5 separate regions of the Homo sapiens genome follow, and all the other regions are reported to be linked to region 5. The links are microRNA targets in miRTarBase. Many come from high-throughput screens and were not tested one by one. Region 5 holds a microRNA gene; each other region holds the end of a gene's coding sequence.

Region 1 (4,000 bases), not on the chromosome of region 5:
GCTAGGGATTTCAGGCTTTTCTGGAAAATAATTTCGTTTGTGATTAGACTAATTTCTGCTGAGCTTAAGGTTAGTGGGATCTGTGTTAATTTTAATGTCTCGGCAATTGCATTCATTTTTTGATTTTTTTTTTCTTGAAGCTAATGCTGTGTGGTTGTTGATCTGAGTACTCTGTCCTTCCACATCAATCATATCCCTTCTGACGAATTCACTTATGTGAAATAGGCTGGGACTGACACTTAGGTACGAGGGCAACTGTGGTCAGAACAACTCTCTGAGCCAAAAGCAAAGCTCATAAACCAATAAAATACAAATAACTTTACTATATAATACAGTAAAGGATGGAATGAAGAGCCCCTAAATTGTGGACAATGGTTATCTTTGGAAGTTGGGTTTAAGGGGATTATTACTTTCTCCATCATTTATTTCTGTAATGTTTATTTGATAATATTAAGGAATTCCCAATTTTTAAAATGCAAAAACGTCATTGTGGTTATGTTTAAAAGTTCTCACAGGATATTCTTACTGAAATATTCATGGGCTAAGCACTATGATGTCTGGGACTTGCTTGTAAATCATACAGTGGGAGAGGAGGTGGGTAGAAATACAGAAAATAAGATTAGACATGAATCGGTAGGTAATGAGTCCACATGAATTCATACGATTGTGTCTACTTTTGTTTGAAAGATTTGTGATAAAAGATTAATAAAAATGGTAGGAGATAAACTTGGCAAAGTAGACTGGGGACTAAACATAAAGAACCGTGAGTATAAGGAAGGTTTATTCTCCAGTTCAGTGCTCTCCAGATTTCAGTGAATGCAACCCTACCTGCGACAATATTGTCACATGCATGCACCAGGCATATGCTTATTTATTCATTCATTCATTTATTTATTTAAAATTATGTACATGTACCATTGTACTATTATGCCATTATAAAACATACACAAACATAAAAAAGCTAGATAAAAATAAGCACAAGTATTGTTCTAATATGTTCTTCCTACACTCTATGGACCTGGACCCCAGTTAGGAGCCCCATGCTTAGTGAATGTGGGGGCCCCTTGAGGTTTTCTGAATAGCAAAGAGTTTATTTATAAGAAACAGAAACTTACTGGCGCAGTAATGGGAGGTTGATTAGAAGGACCCAGAGCTACTTCCCTGAGGCTTCTCAAAGAACTCCAATGGACTGGGAAGTTGTTCTAACTAGATACGTAACTTGAACAAGGATGGCCACTTCCTTGTACACTTCTTTTACATATATGCAATACACATAATGTGTTCTGCACACAGTCAGGATACAATATGCATATAAAACAAACATTCCCCCACATATTATCTTGGGCAATATATTTAACACAACGATTATGATGATAATAATAGCTAACATTAATTGAATACTTACTCTCTGCCAGGTATTGTGGTAAGAACTTTACATACACATTTTTACTCAAAACTCATGACAACCCTATGGAAATCGATCTTATAATTGATTTTCATTTTATTATGAGGAAATTGAGACTAGAAAAAGTAGCTTTCCCAACATAAAAGGGCTAGAAAATGGCAGAGTCAAAATTTTAATCAAGATGTTTCTGACCCCAAACCCCATATCCGTAAGAACTCATCCATATTGCCTCCAGAGAGAATAGTGTCCAAACCAGCAGATTGTTGTGATGATTAAATGAGATAATATAGTTAATATGCTTAGCACACTGTCTGACATAGGGCACACATCCTATTAATAGGTTAGGATTTTAGTACACAGAATGATATTTACTAAGATTTTCCACAGTAAACACCACTAATATCTCTCAATATCAAAACACCAATATTTATAATTATAATTGTAATGAAATAATGTTTTATTATTTAGTTAAACATTATTTATAATAACACACACCTAAACTCCTTTCCTTTGCTGCCATCCATAACCACGTGCGGCTTTTGTTGTTGAGTCCCTGTGGAATGGCTGACTAGAGAGAGATTGCAATTGTGGACTGTGTTATGACTCCTTCTCAGCAGGCTACAAAAGTAGAAATATTTGCACCTGGTGTACTCCCATCATGTTCTTAAGGAGCCACCTGTCTAAGTAGGAGTGCATGTAACTTGAGCACTGAATGACCCAGGAAATACATATATACATATCGATTTTATTTTATGACTGCAGGGTACTTTTAGAGATGTGACAGTCCTGGAAAGTTCTTTGCATTCCATTGGTTTCACTTGAACTGGTCAAATATACCACTTCCATTTCTTTCTTTTTTTTTTCAGATTTCATATTTTTATCAGCCAATCCAGATTAAGTATTTATTTAATAAATACTTAACTATTTACTCATGGCTCCCATGATTACAGTAGCCATCTCTCCCTGATTTTCTGGAACATCCAAGATTTGAGATTTTGTCCCAGTACTACGCTATAATTCCAAATTTGACTGGCAGCCTTAGCCTCTGTAGAGGCGGTGATGCATGAAGCCCTATGCTGAGAGCTGTGATCTGAGATGAGACTCACAGGTGCTGGTGTGTGGTCTGGTCTACATTACTGAATCTGTACTTAATTTTGATGATCATTAAATGTTCCTTTTTTTAAGTTTGCAAATACTTTACTAAATGTCCTATCACTCTAAAGGGAATTTTAAGTTTCGTAGTTGAGTTGGGATGAGGGGAAGATAATGTCTTTGGTTTGCAGATTTTTGACATTTAGTCAAAGCAGATCTTTCCATCAAATAATTAATTTTGGTATTATTAATTCCATACATTTTATGTAATGAGATATTCTATAACTCTAGGTGTTACCTAGGAAACTGCCCATCATCCCCTCTGTTCTTCTCCCCGGGAAGTTTTTTAAATGCTAGAACCACTGTGAAGAGCATTTGTGCTGACACAGTAGAATCCATCCCCACCAATTTGTAGCCCCAGTAGCAAAAACCCAAATTAAATATGTGGGATTCTTGGAAGAAAGCATCCAGTAACCAAATACTATGAGCAAAAAATTAATTTATTACAGATATATTCTCTAGTAATTCATAATAGCTTCTTGAATTTTAAATGTCTTTTTGCTATTTCCAATGCTTAAAAATCATAATTTTAAAACATAAGTACTGTTTTATATACATTGTGATTTCTTTTCTTTTCTCTCTCTTTTTTGTTTTGTGTTTTACTTCTAAATATGAATGATATGGTTTCCAAGTAGCTACTTGGAAAGAAAGGGGATAGGATTCATTGTTTTGCTCTAACATGGTAGAATTTAAAATTTCACATCATATACCTGGAGTTTTAACTATATGAAAAATAGCCAAATGTCATCACTTTCTTGGATATTTCTTTTACGTGTATATATATGTATAATATAAACAGAATACATCTGATTAGTACATTTCAACATTTCATCAATGTGACTTTTATCTCCTATTTTATATAAAATAACAAAATATACAGAGAGAAGAAAGGAGACATCTGTTCATCATACACACAAAGTAAATAAAAGTTCATGTATGGCTTTGCAAAGGTAGATTATGACGTGACTTCCATATTTATTTGTTTAAAAGCCTCTTGAGAGAACGTGTCAGTGTGCTTACGAGAGCGGCCATGGTGGTTGAGTGTCGCGCCGAGAGTCCAACATTAGGGTCCCCAGGGTTCTTTCCAGTGGCTGCTTCGGCAGCTTTCAGTAGACAAATGTAATTTATGACCACTTCATCGATCTTCCCTACAATTTCCTGCCGCTGTGTTTCTGAGTTCACGACTTTAACTAATCGCATGCAAGCTTCTGTTAGGCAACAGAGCACTTGAAAGCTGGAAGTCATAGCTAGGAGCATCTCCTCCGGGCTTTTCTCAGCCATCGCCATTTTCCTACAGGCACTTCCCAACTGTCTGGACTCAATGGATAACAGTTGCTTGTACTGAGAAAGTGTAAGGTCGTACGCTTCAGGGCGTGACTCCTCCCTCTTCTCCTTGGTTGCCCTGACGAGACAGAGCAGCTCATTGGCATCATTTTGGGCTGC
Region 2 (4,000 bases), not on the chromosome of region 5:
ACAACAGAGTTTTTTTTTTGTCTCTCAAGTACAATTTTAATAAGATGTTTTGTGTTAGAGTTCTCTCTCCATCCTCCCACACCCACAAGTTTCATGCTAATGCCAAGTATCAACTCTTGAGGACAAAGGCAAAACCAGTGTGCACAATGTGGAGGATGTCTGTTGCAGCTGTAGTTACTAATGCAGGAAAACCCAATGCAAAGAGGAAAATGCCTGAGGCAGCCAGAGGCCACAATCTGGCCACAGGTCTGGGTGCATGAGACTGGCAGTCTAGTAGGGCTCCGCTGCCTGGCTGCCACATGGGTGCATACCTGAGTTGTGAGCAACCAAAGGAACTTTCAGCTCTGACAATTCTCTGCCTCATCTTCTTTGTGCTTGCTTAAGGAGTGGGAAGGCGCTAGGTGGCCAGGCAGTCCCCACTTCTGTCTCGTGGTGTCCATTTTGATGGCCTGCACCCAGCCACAGACCCATGAGGATGGGGATGGGGGTTCTGGCTTGCTATGAGTGCCAGTTTTTGCTCTGGAAGGAGTGACCATTTGGTGCCGCAAGGGGAAAGTGAGTAGGGAAGGCTGCTCCCCAGGGCCGGACAAACCAAGAAAGCCAGGTCTTCCTCCTGCCTCCATGGGTCAGGTCCAGCCCTTCACCAGGGCTCCCCCAGGTGCCTTTCCCACTCTAGGCTCCTGGAAGCAGGCTGGTAGGACTGGATGTGCATAAGGGGCACCTCTGGCTGGCAGGCAGGCAGGCCTGGACTCTCAGCAAGAGAGTGGGCTCAAGCAGCTTGGTTTTGGCCCTCTCCACAGCTTGTGGGGCAAAGGCTTATGTCCCAAAGGTGAGCTGCCCAACTGGGACAGAGAGCCCCTCTGGAGAGGAACAGAGTAAACAACTTGGACTCAGCTGAAACAGTGAGATAAGGCACAGAAAATGGGGAGGTGGCCATGGGTACCAAGTGCGAGCCAGGCAGACACCCAACCCCATGCAGCACACAGCTGTCCCGAGCCCTCCTGGGCCCTCTCAGCCACTCCACAACCTAAGCTCAGGCACCCGTCCTCATCCCTGACACACCCCTGAAGGTAGCAGCTTCTCAGATACTGCTGGAGGGCACATCAGCCTGACCCCTCATGGGGTTTATCTGCCATTCGGTTTCAGGACTAAATAGTGTTGCCCAACCCACAGGGATAAGGGATAGTCCCGGCTCTGCTACTAATTTGCTATGTGACTTTAGCCAAGTCACTTAATCTCCTGGGCCTGTTTCCTTATTTGTAGCAAGAGAGGAATGGGGGAGATGTTCACTGAACCCCATTCCAGCTGCAAAAGCCTGTGGTTTTAATCCAATCCTGCTAGGCTATGATCATTTAAACAGCCTGATGTCTCCAACTTCTGGGTTTGGGAGCTAGGTAGCCCCAGGCTGTCACAAGAGATGAATTTCCTTTACAGACAGGACGCCTCCTAACAGGCCATGGTCTATGGGTCTGCCAGCCCCAAGGACCAAGAAAAAGCAGCAGCTATAGGATCATTTCCCAAGGCAGAATTCTGACAGCACAGGGCCCAGGGCCCTGGCCCCATCACCAGCAGTTGGTCCAATTCAAACATTTTTCTTGTTGCCCAGCTGTGGGCCCAGTGAGGCCTGGTGAGCAATGGGTATCTCAGGCCACACCAACCATTCCCATGTCCACCAATATGGAGCAGGAGCTTGCAAAGCCCAGATTCAGGCAGGGACTGAAAGTTCAACTTCCGGCCTTGCCATGGCTGACCCTACTCTTTGCATGGGCGGCTTGTGCACTCCCCTCACAATGTGAAGCACATATGGAAATTCCAGCCGTCCTGGTGCTCCTCTGTGTAGACTTCCTCCCTTTCCTCCTCCAGGGCAGCCAGTCCTCTCCACAGGTGGGCCACCCCAAGTCCTGGCAACCATCTCAGTCTTTCCTTTCCTGATTCCCCAATGGTAGCGGGACCACTTTTACTCTGCCAGCTGTAAGGATCTATCTGAAACAGCTGGTGGGACATGTGTAAAGCTGATAGAGTCCCATTCTCTGGCCAGCAAATACTCCCAATAGTCTTTCCTAAGAGTGGCTAGGGCCCAGCTGCAGGGAGCTGTCTGGCACAGTGGCAGTGAAGTCTGGCCTAGGGGACCAAGGATTCCATCCACTCCCTGGAGTAGCAGCCCAAGAACCTGCCTCCACAAGGTACTGGTTTCTCAACAGAAAGCATCCATTCTCTCAGAGCTGTGCAGAGATGGTGAAGATCTAGGCAGGAAGAAAGCAGCCCCTGTACTCAAGGGCCTCTGTCCTGGGAATGGAGTCTTCTTTCCAGCAGCCTGACACACAGAAGCTCTCAGGACGAAGGCAGGTAGTTTCCAGGCAATCAATTTAGAGTAAATGTATTATTTGGCCATCTTAACAACAAGGGAAGATAGGGTATTGAAAAGGGAGGAAAGGGGAGCAAGGCAGGCAGTGGGAGGTGGGGTAGAGTGGTAGATAGTGTGCTGGCCAAGGACCCTCTACCTCTGCTGTGTGGCCCTGGGCCAAGTTATCACTTCTCTGGACCCTTGGCCCTGTAGTTCTCTGCTCTGTCCAGCTCTCAGGGGCCTAGGGATCTACAGTTCTTGGGATGCTATAAACCAATGTAACCATGCCCACTAAGTGGCCCACCAAACCCTATTTGGGTTTCCTAGGCTGCAGCTCGGCCTGTGACTCAAAAAAGGGGGAGCAAAAAATAAATCACTTGGCTGAGGTGACAGAGATTCTTCTTTTTTAATGAGTTGGACTCAAAGAAAACATGGTGCCTGGACAGCCTCACCCAAGAGGTGCTGGACCACTAATGCTACGATAAATACTGTCTTTTTTTTTAATATATATATTTTTATATATATATATATAATCTCATTTGTTTTTTACTTATGAAAATAATAAGCTATCACCAACTTGGATAGGCTTCATCACTAAATTAGCAGAAACCAGCTCAGCACAAACTCTCCAGAGATAAATACTGGTGGCTCAGTCAGGAGAAAAAAATTTAAAAACCCCAACCCCTCCTCAAAACAAAACCCCCCTTTCAAAATAGAAGGCGCTACATGAGAGTAACCAGCCAATACTGTGTTACAGGCCGCTGCACGTGAAGGGGAGAGAGAGAGAGACTGAGCGGGGTGGTGGGCAGAGAAAGGAAGGAAGGAAGGAAAGGGAGAGGGGGAAAGGCCAGGCAGGAGGAGTGGACTCTGTCTATGGTTTCCCAGTCCCTGCACCAGTTGCCTATGGAGGGCAGGGCAGCTCCAGCCCTGGGGCCAGTGGAGGGCCAGCCAGAGCCAGCCAGCACAGTCAGCTAGTGCAAGTAGTCATCAACTCTGGCAAAGGAGCAAGAACCCAGGCCTGCTCGGGCCATGAGCCGGAGACACTCAGATGCCTGGCCCAGGGCGAGCATCAGAGGGGGCTGCTTTGGCAGGTTCTGGGACTCTGTGGAGGAAAGACAAGGCCTGGTCACTGGCCTGCCCAGGGCTTGGGCCCAGGTCAAAGTTCCCTTGGGGGTGGAAGGAGGGGGCAGTGGACAGATTCTCTTGGAACAGAGTGTTCAGTACCTCTGTGTAAGTGTGTCCCAGCCACCAGGCCATGGCCCTGAAGTCATGCCAGGAACCTGAGGACCTTAGCCCCATGTAGAGCGCTGGGCTGGCCTGGGCCTACTGCCATGGCCTAGGACCCATCATGAACTCAGCTGGGCAGACAGAGGTCAAGGTTTAGGTTCAACCATGGGAGCCCAGGAGTCCTATGAGTCACCAGAGAGGGCCTGTACAGAGCTTGCTGCCCCAGTGTGGATAAACATCAGCTCTTTCTGGGGCCAATTGGGGTGGGGGTTGGGAACCACCCAGGTAGCTATGGGCTAGCTTCTGTTTTTGTTAGATCCACTCACCTAGGCCAGGCATGGTGGCTCACACCTGTAATCCCAGCACTTTGGGAGGCTAAGGCGGGCAGATCACCTGAGGCCAGGAGTTCGAGACCAACCTGGCCAACAT
Region 3 (4,000 bases), not on the chromosome of region 5:
TGGGCTGGGCGTGGGGGCCCACACATGTAATCCCAGCACTTTGGGAGGCCGAGGCAGGCAGATCACGAGGTCAGGAGTTCGAGACCAGCCCGGCCAACATGGTGAAACCCCGTCTCTACTGAAGGTACAAAAATTAGCTGGGCGTGGAGGCAGGTGCCTGTAGTTGCGGCTACTTGAGAGGCTGAGGCAGAGGAATCGCTTGACCCAGGAGGCGGAGGTTGCAGCGAGCCGAGATAGCGCCACTGCACTCCAGCCTGGGAGACAGAGTGAGACCTGTCTCCCCTCCAAAAAAAAAAAAAAGAACTCGGTGTTTGCTCTGCAGGTTTGCTGGCTACCTTCTCTTTTCAGTACACTGGAAATAGCAGCTTGTGTTGTTTACCTACTCTTTGATCCTTTTTTTTTTTTTTTTCCTCTTGGCCTCAGGCTCCTGTTCTGGATGTCAGATATGCATCTGCCTCCTGAGAAACTGGTGGCTTTGAACACTTGGTGTGGACTACTGTGTTATCCGGGATATCAGGTATTATGAGACATCACCTAGCCATCTGCATCACATCTCTCTGGACAAGCAGCTATTACCAAAAAAGGCATATACTTCCAGTCCTGTGCTCCATCTGCCTTAATTCTTTGCTCGTTCCTCCATGTTGGCGCCACTTCCCAGAGAGCTCCACTGCATCTCACACTCTGCCCACGTGCTGGGGAAGTCTCACGGCCTGCACATCTCTTGTGACTCTGGGAACCGCCTCTCCCGCCGGAGCCCCCGAGCCCCACCAATGGCAGCTCTTCCCAGTCAGCAGCTTCAGAGCAGGCAGTCTCCTTGGAAGGCCCGACTCTGTTCCTGCATGGCCTGCAGTTTCTACTTTGTGCATAGAGTCATTTTCAGAGTCACCGCGACCCTGTTGGCCTTCTAGAAAGTTTCTTTTGTTCTTTTCTGAGACAACCACCTAAGTGATAATACGCTTTTTTGGAAACTAATATATATTGCCAGACTGCATCATAACCTTTATCATGCCAAGCATCCTGATGCAACTCACATTTCCCTAAACATGGGGTACAGTTATGATTTATAAATTGAGTTGGCTTAAATCTCCCTCTTCTCCCTTCCCAAGTGTTACAAAGATCATTTACTGCAACTGTCGTTGGACACTGTAGCTTAAAGGGAACGTGGACCTCAATGCTTTCTGCCTTCAACTTTTCAGCATTGTGACCCCAGGGTGGTTGCCACCCCATCTTTTCCTGACCCCCCCCACCCCCCCACCTCCAAGAGGTTCGGCCCACATCACTGTACCTGGTGCTTGTAAATTTGGAATTGGTGCCTTCTCCTTTTGGCAACCATGGTTATCAATCCTTTTTCTGTTTTAGTGTCTTATTTCTTCTTTCAAGTTATTTGCTAGCCAAAGATGACATCACTGAGATTAGGAGACAGGGGAGAGCTTGCTGCAGATTCTGACAGTGCAGATTTTAAATGTCAGGATATTAGAATAGCTGGCGCTGGTTTATGAAAGCTGCGCGTTGTTCCGCGTTCTCTCGGTGTGCCTGGCCTTTTATGTGGCACTCTGTATGTCAGTTTGTGTCCTTCATGTGCTGATGTGATTACACAAACACCATGCACTCTCTTTTCATATCAGAGTACAGGACAGAGAAGTGATCAATGTATTGGTCTAGTGAGACTGAGATGAAAAGAAATAACCTACAGAGTGGTCTGTAATGCCTTTTGGTTGGACTGGGAACAAGTAAAAATTTCTAATAAACATTTTGAGACTTCCAGAATCACTTTTGTTATCTTATCAGACCATGGGCCTGCTGAGGGTTGAGCAGACAGCCTGCATTCTAACATACCCTGTTCCCACCCCACGGCCATTCAGACTGCACTCAATACGCTGAAGTCGCTTTTGTTGTTGTTGTTGTTGTTTGCATCATTTGGATTTTTTTCCTGCTTTCAATACCAAAAAAATGCAGATGCTTTAAGGCCTAAACAGAATTCTGAAGAATTTAAAATATGCAATTAAAGTTTGATATGTTTTGTCTCCCAAGCACCTTGTTTTTTGTTGTTGTTGTTGTTGTTGAAGTCAGCTGATTTTCTCTTTAGAAAGAGGGTCAGCTAGAAACCTAGGTTTTTTGGAATTGTAAATTTTTTTTTAGTATAGTCTGGAGAGAAAGGTCATTCAAAAGGAAAGTACAATGGGACTTGCTGCCCTTCATCATCTCGTTCCCGTGCCAGGTGTGTGTTGGTCACGTAAAAGCCTGGGAAGCATCAGAGGAGTCCCGGATTGCTGCTGCTACCTGGAGACAGGGTTAGCAAAATAACACTAGTGATGAGGGAGAGGCTTCTTTTCACCATAAGCCTGCTGTGTACACCGAGGGCGGCAGGAGAAGCATGGGAAGGAGTCAGCCTAAGTTTGCACATTGCATAAAGGGTACACTAAGGTATGAGCTGAAGCTTTAGGTTCTCCGTGCTTCCCTCAAGACCTCCTTCTTGCTAACAGAAGCAGTAGGCAATTGCTGCAGTGCGTTTCTCACCCTGCCAATAGGTCTGTCTGTATCTCTGTTAAGGAAAATAGCCTGGTCCCTCCTGGCAGTGCTTGGAAGCTTGATGCTAATTTTTATATAGCGTGGCAAACTGACCAGCAGTGCCAGGCCTTGATCTGTATTCTGCACTATCCCTTTACTTGGTTCCTGGCACTGAATGGTCTCCAGCCCTGAAGAATCACGTGTGATCACAGCAGCTGACCTGGGCTTTCTCCCCGAGAGGAAGGGGCATGTCATTTTTATTTGACAGAGGGAAAATGGGAGCTGTCCTTGACTGCCTTTGTTGTGCTTTCCCGCGTAAGATAGCACTGTGTTTTAAACTGTTGCATTACACTGTCTTTGCAATGATGTAAATGTAAGAAATCACTTAGCTTTAAAAGCGCAGTGGTTTGATCTTATTTATATGAAGACTTTTTAACATATCAAGAATTAGGTGCATTGGCAGGTAGGGTTTGGGGTGTGATAACTGCTTCAGATGGAATGTTCACTTAAGCTTTGTCTTCTTAAAAATTATCAATGTGAATGTCATAATTATATATATTTTTGTGGAAAATTTTCTCCTAAGTATAAGTTATTGTGCAAAATATAGTGTCATTGATGCAAATAATAGTTTAACTTTTAGTTTAGAACTCCTAAAAGATATAAATTGTATTGCATATGCATTAAAAGTTTGTTTTATTTAATTTTATGTAGATGTGTGAAGTGTTAGGTAAAATTTTTTTCACTTATCCATTTAAACACCTTGTTACTTGAATATTGTGTTGACTGGTCTGCAACAGTGATCCATTCTGTAATATAGCTCTTTTAACTGGGAAGGAACCACACCCCAGTTGTGCCGATTACATTAGTGTTGGCACACAGTCGGGTGCTAGTGTAACACAAATGCCGCGTTGTCTGGGTGTACAGTGTTTGTGGAGACGCCACTTCCTCAAAATGGTTTTTGATTGTTTTTAACCTATAAGACGTTCTGATGCTCACAAACCTCTATTCAACACACAAAACAAACATGAAAAGGTAGTTAGTTGGGTTGTAACAGCTTACTGGGGTGGACTCATAAAACAGTGGCTTTCTGTTCATCTAAAGTTTCCTCAGATACCACAGACCACTGTTAAGTGTGCTCATTGTCACTTTAAATTTCAACGATACCCTATTTTTGTCATTCTAAATATCAGATGTACTATTGGTATAATTGCACACCAAAAATAAGCCAAACAGTGCATTACGCTAACTGGATCCCTGCTTTTATGTGAGCTAAGGAAAGATGGAGCCAACTCCAACGAGGGCCTCTTTTTCTCTCTTGTCTAGCCTGTTTCTAAACCGAATGATCCAGGATTCAAGCTTCTATTGTCAAGTGAAACTTTCCTCAGATGGACTCCAGGTAGCCAGGTCACCTAAACCTAGTGGTCCTGTGCGATGCTCTTTCTGCCAGTCCCTGAATCTCTGCAGCTTCTCTTACCTGTCTTACCTGTAGTAA
Region 4 (4,000 bases), not on the chromosome of region 5:
TCCTCATGGAAATCAAATGCATAAACTAAAATGGAAGGAACCTGAGTAAAGTTACCTCTATAAAAGCCATCTTGGTTATATTAAAAATATGAGCTTATATTTGTTAATGCTCTACCTTTTGTATATCTTTTTGTTTTCAGCCCACTTCGATGTGTTGTTCTTGTCGCACTTAGGGACATCAATCAAGGAGAAGAGCTTTTTTCAAACTACTACACAATTGTCAGCTAACTCTGTGAATCAGAAATTATTAGGTTTTCTACTCAGCTATTAATTCTAAGTGTTTTTTGTTAATCACTTCTCTGAGTTCTACCTGTAAAACAAATATTTTGAGACTTAATTGGAATAGGAATTTCTTATGTTTTTGTTGATATTATATTTATGTTCCAATTTCATGATAAAAGCTACTTGCTTCATTACAATTTCAAATTTGTAATGCAATTCCAAGTTTAATTGGTTTTCACCTAAATACACAATAGCTTATTAAATTAAAACCTACTCTTTGAACTTATAATTTCAATTTTTCTTTTGTTTATTTTGTAAGCTCTGTGGTGGTTTATAAAATTGTAGCCAGGCATCAGCAGTTCTTGTAGTACTGCTGATGTGTACAAACTTCTGTAAAAACTTTATTTTTACAGAATTGAGTAAAAAATACCTATTGTGTTGCCATGAGTAAATTGGTGTGTCTATGTATAATGTAAAGATTGCTCTAGCTGGCTGAGGGGAAAATGTGAGGTCATTATTACTATTTTCTTTACTCTTTGAACATTTTCACACCAAAGAAAAGGTGGAAAAAAAGTGCAAGATAGTGTTGGTGGGAGGAACACTTATTCCCCGTGTCTCATGTCTTCATGTGGAGGGCTTCCACTGGTTAATGTTCCTAGCCTCTCTCTCCACCCACTGGAGGGAGATTGACTCCCTGATTATGTTTGGAGAATAACTAGGCACCCATGTCCTATATACCCTTCTAGTTCCTTCCCTGTGGACTCTGGCTGCCAGCAGAAAGAATGTGTCCTGGCAGTTCTCTGCCTTGTGCAGAGAATAGCCTGTAGCCAGCCCAGCCAGTGACAGAGTGAGTCCAGAGGTGTAATATATTGGCAGGCCAACCTGGCTGCAGCCCTGAAGCTACCTTCCCGTTTTATTAGCAATAGTTACTTTGACCTCCATCGACCTGACTCCAGCTCTCTCAGTTCCAAACTTGGATAGGAAGGAGGGTGTTCTTTACTGGATCCCTCAAAAATTCATGGAACCTATATGACCAGATTCTGATTACCTTCACTTCCTTACCACCAGCTTTACTCACCTAGTTTATTGCAATTTCAGTAGCCTCTCAATTGCCTTCCTTGTTTCCACTCCTGTCCCCCTTACAGAACATATCACCAAGTGTGATTCTTTTAAATGAAAGTCAGGTATTGACATACGTCTGCTCAAAACCCTCTCCCTATCATGGAGTAAATGCTGAAGTCCTTCACATGCATAACCTGCTCATGACCTCAAGAGCTCCTCTCCTTTCTCCCCTTGCTCACTCCATCCCAACCCACACCTGCCTCCTGGCCACTCCCCAAACCTGCCAGGCACATTCCCAACCAAGGACTTTTGCACTTAGTTCTCTCTGCCTGTAAACATCTTCCCCCAGACAGCCACATAGCTTGTTCTCTCCCTTCCTGTCACCTCAGTGAGGAGCGTTGCCTCATCACCCCACTGAAATTTACAATCCCTCACTGCTCCCAACCCTGACATATTCCTCATTCTCTTTAGCACTTACCACCAGCAAGCTCAAAAAGCGTACCATAGATGGAAATTATGGCCAAAATGACTTCTAGTAACAGATGTACTAGATTATCCTGCTTCCACAGGCTTTTCCGTCTCCTAAAGCCTGAAAATACTCTGAGCTCTCACATGGCACATTGTTGCATTCTTGCTGTATTCGGAATATGTGTGCTTGTCCCTGCTCTGAAGGCACTTCTGTGCATGTGTCCACCACAGAGCCCTATGTGCTAAGGTCCTTTCGTGTCTGACAAGGAAGGGATGTGGTTTTAGTCAAGTAACCAAAGCAGAGGAGTCAAGATTTTTGCTTTCCTTTTATCCCCTTCTTGGCCTTGTACAAACTTTGGATATTATGGGCAAGCTGATCACTGCATCTTAAAAATGGAACTACATAAAGCTCTGGTCAGAGGAAATGAAATATGGGGACAAACTTGTGAAATAATGGCAAGATAGGAGCTTTAGCTTAAAAAGATGTTTAGGAAAGATAGATATGACTACGGTCAAACTATGAATCGTATGGATAAGGAAGACTAGTTGACCATAAATGTAGTCTGTCAAATAATAATAATATTTGACCAAATTTCAGATCTGTCTGTCTTCATAAAAGACAGTTACCTAGAACAGCGTTTGAAACATAATAAATGTTTCCTGAATTAAACTAAAAGTATAATCCTTACTTTGGGACTTCTTTTTTTTTTTTTTTTTGAGATGGAGTCTCAGTCTGTTGTCCAGGCTGGAGTGCAATGGCAGGATCTCAGCTCACTGCAACCACCACCCCCAGGGTTCAAGCAATTTTCCTGCCTCAGCCTCCTGAGTAGCTGGGGTTACAGGCATGCGCCACCTCGCTCGGCTGATTTTTGTATTTTTAGTAGAGACGGGGTTTCACTATGTTGGTCAGGCTGGTCTTGAACTCCTGACCTCATGATCTGCCCGCCTCGGCCTCTCAAAGTGTTGGGATTACAGGGGGACTTTTATTATAGATGGAAATTATAGAGGATTTAAGGAAAATATTTAATCTACCAACTTCACTATCTATCATATATCTTATTTACTGCATCTAAAACCAATTTAACAGTGGTATAATATCTATCTATTTGCTGTAGCTTAAGATTCATTAAATAAAATATCTGTATTTTTGGCAAATATTCACACAAACCAAGAAAAAAAGATTCCCAGATTTTTATTTCTGGAACTGTACACCAGGTATTAAAGTACAACAAATACAAAATAATGCTCAAAAAAATCAGTGTTTATGTACAAATATTAAAATCAATGCAATAGCAACTTCCTCTTGAACATCTGATACTGAAACTTGTTCTGATTGTCACTAATTTATCTCATACTCACAGGGTACTTATTTCAAACTGGGACAATTGGAATCACTGGTCATCTAAGAGGAATATTAATATCTACCATATTTAACAATAAAACTAATAGTTTCCTCCATTTAGTGAAAAAATTAGGAACTTTTTAAAAAACATAGTAACGTCAATATTTTATAAATTATTTCAATTTCCATTTGTAGACAATGTGCTTTGAAACTCTGGGCAAACAATCTCCTTGGTGGTCAGGTTTATTTGTTAGTTTACATTCAAAGTTGAAATATTCACTAGAGACTTTGGTTAAATTAAATAGTATCACTATGCTCTATTAGATCTGATGTTCTCAAATATTTATGAGCCTCAACATTTTAAAAATTAAAAAGGAAATGATTGCACAATTCTTTGATCTAATTGTACAAATTTTAGTATTTTTTAAACAGTATTCTACATCCTTCAAGTAAATTCAGCAGCTGACCATGACAAGAGGAAAACTAAACATTTAAAAAGCTAGCATGAAAAAGATGAAGTACAACTAACAAATGTATTGCTATAATCACAGCACCAGTTACACTTCTAAATGAATCCACTGTCCTTTTCAAATTCCCTGTACATAAAAGATATATCAGCCAACACTGCAACTGCTCACCATGAATTTTTGGTTTGTTCATAAGAAAATAATGGGGCAAAGGAAAAAAAAACAAAAAGAATTTATCACAGTTTGTTATAAGAATTGTGCTTAACACTTGATAATAAAGGCATTATTGTTTCTTCACATGATTGCAAATCCGGTTGTTTTCTTGCTTCCAAATGCAATTCTTTTAATAAACAGTAACAAATTCTCTGTTAAGATGTTTAAACTGAGAGAAAAAAAAAACCCAGTAAATCCAGCTTTTAAAAGAAAATTCAATAAATAG
Region 5 (4,151 bases):
CCCGGTACTGCTTATATTGATGGAGTTATGGGGGCTAGAAGTGGAGTAGGAAGGGTGAGGCCGACTTCCATGAAGCAGAATCAAAGTCTGGCTTCAGTTTAGGAAGGGCCTATTTACTTCATTTTGGGACAGGCAAGGTAGCCTTTTGCTTAGCTCCTTTTAGACCATGTGACTTGGAAGTCATGAGGCAGCGGAGGTTGAAAATTCTGGCTGGTCCCACAATACAGATGTTGGAAAAAAAAAATTTGGCCGGGCTTGGTGGCTTACGCCTGTAATCCCAGCACTTTGGGTGGCCAGGGCGGGTGGATCACTTCAGGCCAGGAGTTTGAGACCAGCCTGGGCAACATGGCGAAACCCCCTCTCTACAAGAAATACAAAAATTAACTGGGCACTGTGGTATGTGCCTGTAATCCCAGCTGTTTGAGAGGCTGAGACACAAGAATCACTTGAACCCAGGAGGCACAGGCTGCAGTGAGCCGAGACTGCACCACTGCACTCCAGCCTGGGTGACAGACTGAGACTGTCTCAAAAAAAAAAAAAAAAAGACAAAATAGTAAGATTTAAAATATAAAAAGCATTAAAAAATATTCTGGCTGGGTGCGGTGGCTCACCCCTGTAATCCCATCACTTTCAGAGAACGAGGTGGGAGGATCACTTGAGAACAGGGGCTTGAGACCAGTCTGGCCAACATAACAAGACCCCATCTCTACACAAAATAATTTTTTAAAAATAGGCATGGTGGCACACACCTGTAGTTGTAGCTACTTGGGAGGCTGAGGTAGGAGAACCCCTTGAGCCCAGGAATATGAGGTTGCAGTGAGCTGACTGTGCCATTGCATTCCAGCCTGGACAAGAGACCCTGTCTCTATAACAAAAATTCTAGGGAATATCTTCAGTTAGAGCTGGTTTGTAGGAGTTAACCGTTGATCTATGTAGGGACAAGGTTCTAGGAGAACCAAGATGACGGAGGGCAGCTGGGAGTTGTGTGGAGAGGTAAGGCTGGCAAGATGAGGGTATTTGGCAGTGATCTGATGCAGGAAGGAGGCTTGCACATGATAAAGCTAAGAAAGTCTTGTGGAATGAAAGTGAATCTTCAAGTATAGCCTTGTACTTCTCTGATAGAGACTGGGGACATACCTGCTTTAGAGAGACTAATGGAGTAAGTGGGTGGCACTTTAAGTACAAAAAACTTAGGGAACTCCACAAGTAGGTTGTGTTGAGTGTGTCCAGCAGGAAGTGCTGGAGTATAGGCTTCAGGGCTGGAGCAAAGGCCAGACTGGAGCCATTCATCCGGGTAGTAGTTGGCAAGTGTTGGAATGGTTCTTGGAGAGTTGAAAGGGAGCTGGGGGTGGGCACAGCCAAGCCTATGGGGAGCATGTGCTGGTCAGCTGGCATGGGGCAGGCCCAGGTAGGACAGTGGATGGTTGGCCTGAAAGGGTGTCAAGTCCTCCATTTGTTCAGCTTTGAATCCCCACTTGGAGTATCTCCTTTTTATCCTATATTCTCCATAGCATCTCAGCACAGAGGGACCCCCAAGTGGGAGCCCCATCAGTATAAATGAATGAGTCTGGAACAGTGGCCCAGAAAGACAGGGTTAGCAGCACCTGGCAGGGAGAGAAGGAACAAGATAGGAATGGACTGAGGTTACAGCTGGCAGCTGGGGCCCCTAAGGACTCACTCAGCTTCTCCCTTCTTCCAGGTGGACATGATCTCACTAGCCAAGCAGATCATCGAAGCCACACCGGAGCGGATTAAACGAGAGGACTTCGTGGGGCTGCCCGAGGCTGGAGCCTCAATGCGGGAGCGGACAGGGGCTGTGGGGCTCAGTGAGACCATGTCCTGGCTGGCCAGCTACCTGGAGAATGTGGACCATTTCCCCAGCTCAACCCCTCCCAGGTGACTAGCTCAGGACAAAGCCTCCAGATTCTTCAAAGGAAGATGGGAGGAAGGGAGAAAGCTGGCTTTCCCACAGCCAAAGCTCCATTCTGGCTGAGGCCCCAGGGCCTTGGAGAAGCGAACTGAACTGGCTGATGAACTCTGAAGTCACTCTCCAGACTCAGTTGCTGGTGGTTTTCCTTCGTAGCCATCCATAGGTGGCAGAGGAGGGACTTCAGATGCTTCATGACACCCTCTTTCCCTACCGCCTACAGCGAACTGCCCTTTGAGCGAGGTCGCCTGGCTGTCCCTTCAGCACCCTCCTGGGCAGAGTTTCTCTCTGCATCCACCAGTGGCAAGATGGAAAGTGATTTTGCCCTGCTGACACTATCAGATCACGAGCAGCGGGAACTGTATGAGGCTGCCCGAGTCATCCAGACGGCCTTCCGAAAGTACAAGGTCAGGGGCAGGGGTCTCAGGATGAATTACACAATCTCCAGTCAGGGGAGACTGGGCTCCCAGGGCTTTTGGAGGATGAGTAGTCGTGCAGACAGGCCTTGGATGGGGTAAAGGGTCAGGGGAACCCCAGGAAAGTTGAAGGGACAAGTCAGATATGCCATTATGTGGGTCATGAGGTGGTGAGACTTCTCTCCCTTCAGGGCCGGCGGCTGAAGGAGCAGCAGGAGGTAGCAGCAGCTGTAATCCAGCGCTGTTACCGGAAGTACAAGCAGGTGAGACCCTTCTCCCTCAAAAGTGTAACCAGCAACCCACCAACCCACACCCACGCCTAACCATTCCAGAATGTTGCCAGAGCCCTAACTCCCCTTCTCTCTCCACAAGCTGACCTGGATTGCACTTAAGGTATTAGGCATGAGCTCTGAGTGTGAGGTCTGTGATGATTCAGTCTTTCCTTGAGTGTGTGGGTTACAGAGAGTCTTGCATCAGCCTAACTTGGGTGAGCCTCAGGGCTTTGGGTCTCCGTCCCTCTATTTCAGCCCCTGTCCCTCCTCCCCACCCCTGCAGTTTGCACTCTATAAGAAGATGACCCAGGCGGCCATCCTGATCCAGAGCAAGTTCCGAAGCTACTATGAACAGAAGCGATTTCAGCAGAGCCGCCGAGCGGCTGTGCTCATCCAGCAGCACTACCGCTCCTACCGCCGCAGGCCCGGCCCTCCCCACCGGACTTCGGCCACCCTGCCTGCCCGCAACAAGTAGGGCCCAGCCCCAGCCCTCTGTGCCCACCCACTGCATCCACGCCATTCCCCCTTACTCATCCTCTTGATCATCATGCCTCACTGCCATTCCCTGCCTAGGGTTCCTGGGGGGGCCGAAGGCATGCGATGCCTTCTGTGAGGTCCATCTTTTGTTTCTTTCACCAGAGGCTCCTTTCTCACCAAGAAGCAGGACCAGGCAGCCCGGAAGATCATGAGATTCCTGCGGCGCTGCCGACACAGGTACTCATCCCTTCTCCCCCTGGGCTTTTGCGTTGCCACCCGTCGTGATCCGCCAGTCTCCTCTGACTCCTATCTTTCTCTCTGCAGGATGAGGGAACTGAAGCAGAACCAGGAGCTGGAAGGGCTTCCCCAGCCGGGACTGGCCACATGACCTGGCCACCGCCTTTCTCACCACCCTGGGGGCGCCTCGTGCAGTCTTAACAGGGAGAGGGCTTTCTGGGGCAGGGGGAGCCCCTGTCGGCAGCTTTCCTGTTCACCTTTGTTGGAGCCCTCTGTAGGCCTCCTCCCTCCTCCCCACGCCTTGCTCCCACACCCCTCTCCTCGTCCCTCCTGGTCGTGCCCCGTCTCTTTTGGTCCTGGCTCCAGAAAACCCGCGCCCCACATACCTGCATCTTCCGCTGTGACCTCCGGAGCCCTGCCTGCCCCTGCTCCCCAGCTCCTCCTGCCTGCACCCGACTCGGCCCCCTCCTGACTTGCCTTATTTATTTGTTCGACGCGTCTCTGAATGTATCCGCCTCGGTTCCCACCACTGCCTTCGCTGCGCACGCCCCTCGTGTTTCAGGGCTGACCGTGTCCCCACCCGACTCCGCATGTTTGCGTCTGTTTCCTCCCTCTCTGGCCCTGTCTTACCCCATCACCCGACTCTGGCCACTGACCTCAGGGCCGAAGGGGAGGTGGTGTACATAGGAACGCGTTGCGGAGTCCGCCCCGTCCCCCGAGGGGAGGGGTCTTGTACATACTGTAACATACAGAGTATAGTGAAGAATCTATTTAAGGCGCCGCGGGGAGGGCTGCACGGCCGGGCTTGTGGTTCTCTAGCGC

What was found. Region 5 holds the annotated microRNA hsa-miR-6864-5p (UUGAAGGGACAAGUCAGAUAUGCC, at 2,470-2,493, shown strand). A microRNA usually pairs through its seed, bases 2 to 8, with sites in the 3' UTR of a target mRNA and lowers its output. Matches are read on the target gene's strand: a 7mer-m8 pairs with bases 2 to 8, a 7mer-A1 pairs with bases 2 to 7 and ends in A, and an 8mer does both.
Region 1: miRTarBase lists FRMPD4 as a target of hsa-miR-6864-5p. The part of its 3' UTR that is shown has no 7-base or 8-base seed match.
Region 2: miRTarBase lists RANBP10 as a target of hsa-miR-6864-5p. Seed matches in the 3' UTR shown: 7mer-m8 at 3,113-3,119.
Region 3: miRTarBase lists RCOR1 as a target of hsa-miR-6864-5p. Seed matches in the 3' UTR shown: 7mer-A1 at 1,182-1,188 and 7mer-m8 at 2,192-2,198.
Region 4: the mRNA of SETD9 is a reported target of hsa-miR-6864-5p. The part of its 3' UTR that is shown has no 7-base or 8-base seed match.

The regions. Positions count from the first base shown.
Region 1 is chrX:12,721,391-12,725,390 of GRCh38, reverse strand. It overlaps FRMPD4 (FERM and PDZ domain containing 4), which reads right to left. Exons shown (of 17, transcript NM_001368397.1): 17 at 868-4,000. The coding sequence ends at 3,533. Among named protein-coding and RNA genes, the nearest start is that of PRPS2, 68 kb to the left of the region's middle.
Region 2 is chr16:67,723,113-67,727,112 of GRCh38, forward strand. RANBP10 (RAN binding protein 10) reads right to left here. Exons shown (of 14, transcript NM_020850.3): 14 at 1-3,446. The coding sequence ends at 3,316. Among named protein-coding and RNA genes, the nearest start is that of GFOD2, 5.8 kb to the left of the region's middle.
Region 3 is chr14:102,726,045-102,730,044 of GRCh38, forward strand. It overlaps RCOR1 (REST corepressor 1), which reads left to right. Exons shown (of 12, transcript NM_015156.4): 12 at 424-4,000. The coding sequence ends at 462. Among named protein-coding and RNA genes, the nearest start is that of TRAF3, 49 kb to the right of the region's middle.
Region 4 is chr5:56,916,675-56,920,674 of GRCh38, forward strand. It overlaps SETD9 (SET domain containing 9), which reads left to right. Exons shown (of 6, transcript NM_153706.4): 6 at 141-674. The coding sequence ends at 228. It overlaps MIER3 (MIER family member 3), which reads right to left. Exons shown (of 13, transcript NM_001297599.2): 13 at 2,929-4,000. Among named protein-coding and RNA genes, the nearest start is that of SETD9, 9.1 kb to the left of the region's middle.
Region 5 is chr17:4,968,085-4,972,235 of GRCh38, reverse strand. MIR6864 (microRNA 6864) reads left to right here and starts at 2,465; the gene lies at 2,465-2,534. CAMTA2 (calmodulin binding transcription activator 2) reads left to right here. Exons shown (of 23, transcript NM_015099.4): 16 at 1-4; 17 at 1,700-1,896; 18 at 2,151-2,334; 19 at 2,535-2,606; 20 at 2,716-2,736; 21 at 2,899-3,086; 22 at 3,255-3,329; 23 at 3,417-4,151. The coding sequence ends at 3,480. It overlaps MIR6865 (microRNA 6865), which reads left to right and starts at 2,086; the gene lies at 2,086-2,150. RefSeq lists enhancers at 2,665-3,341, 2,175-3,374, 3,342-4,019, 4,020-4,151.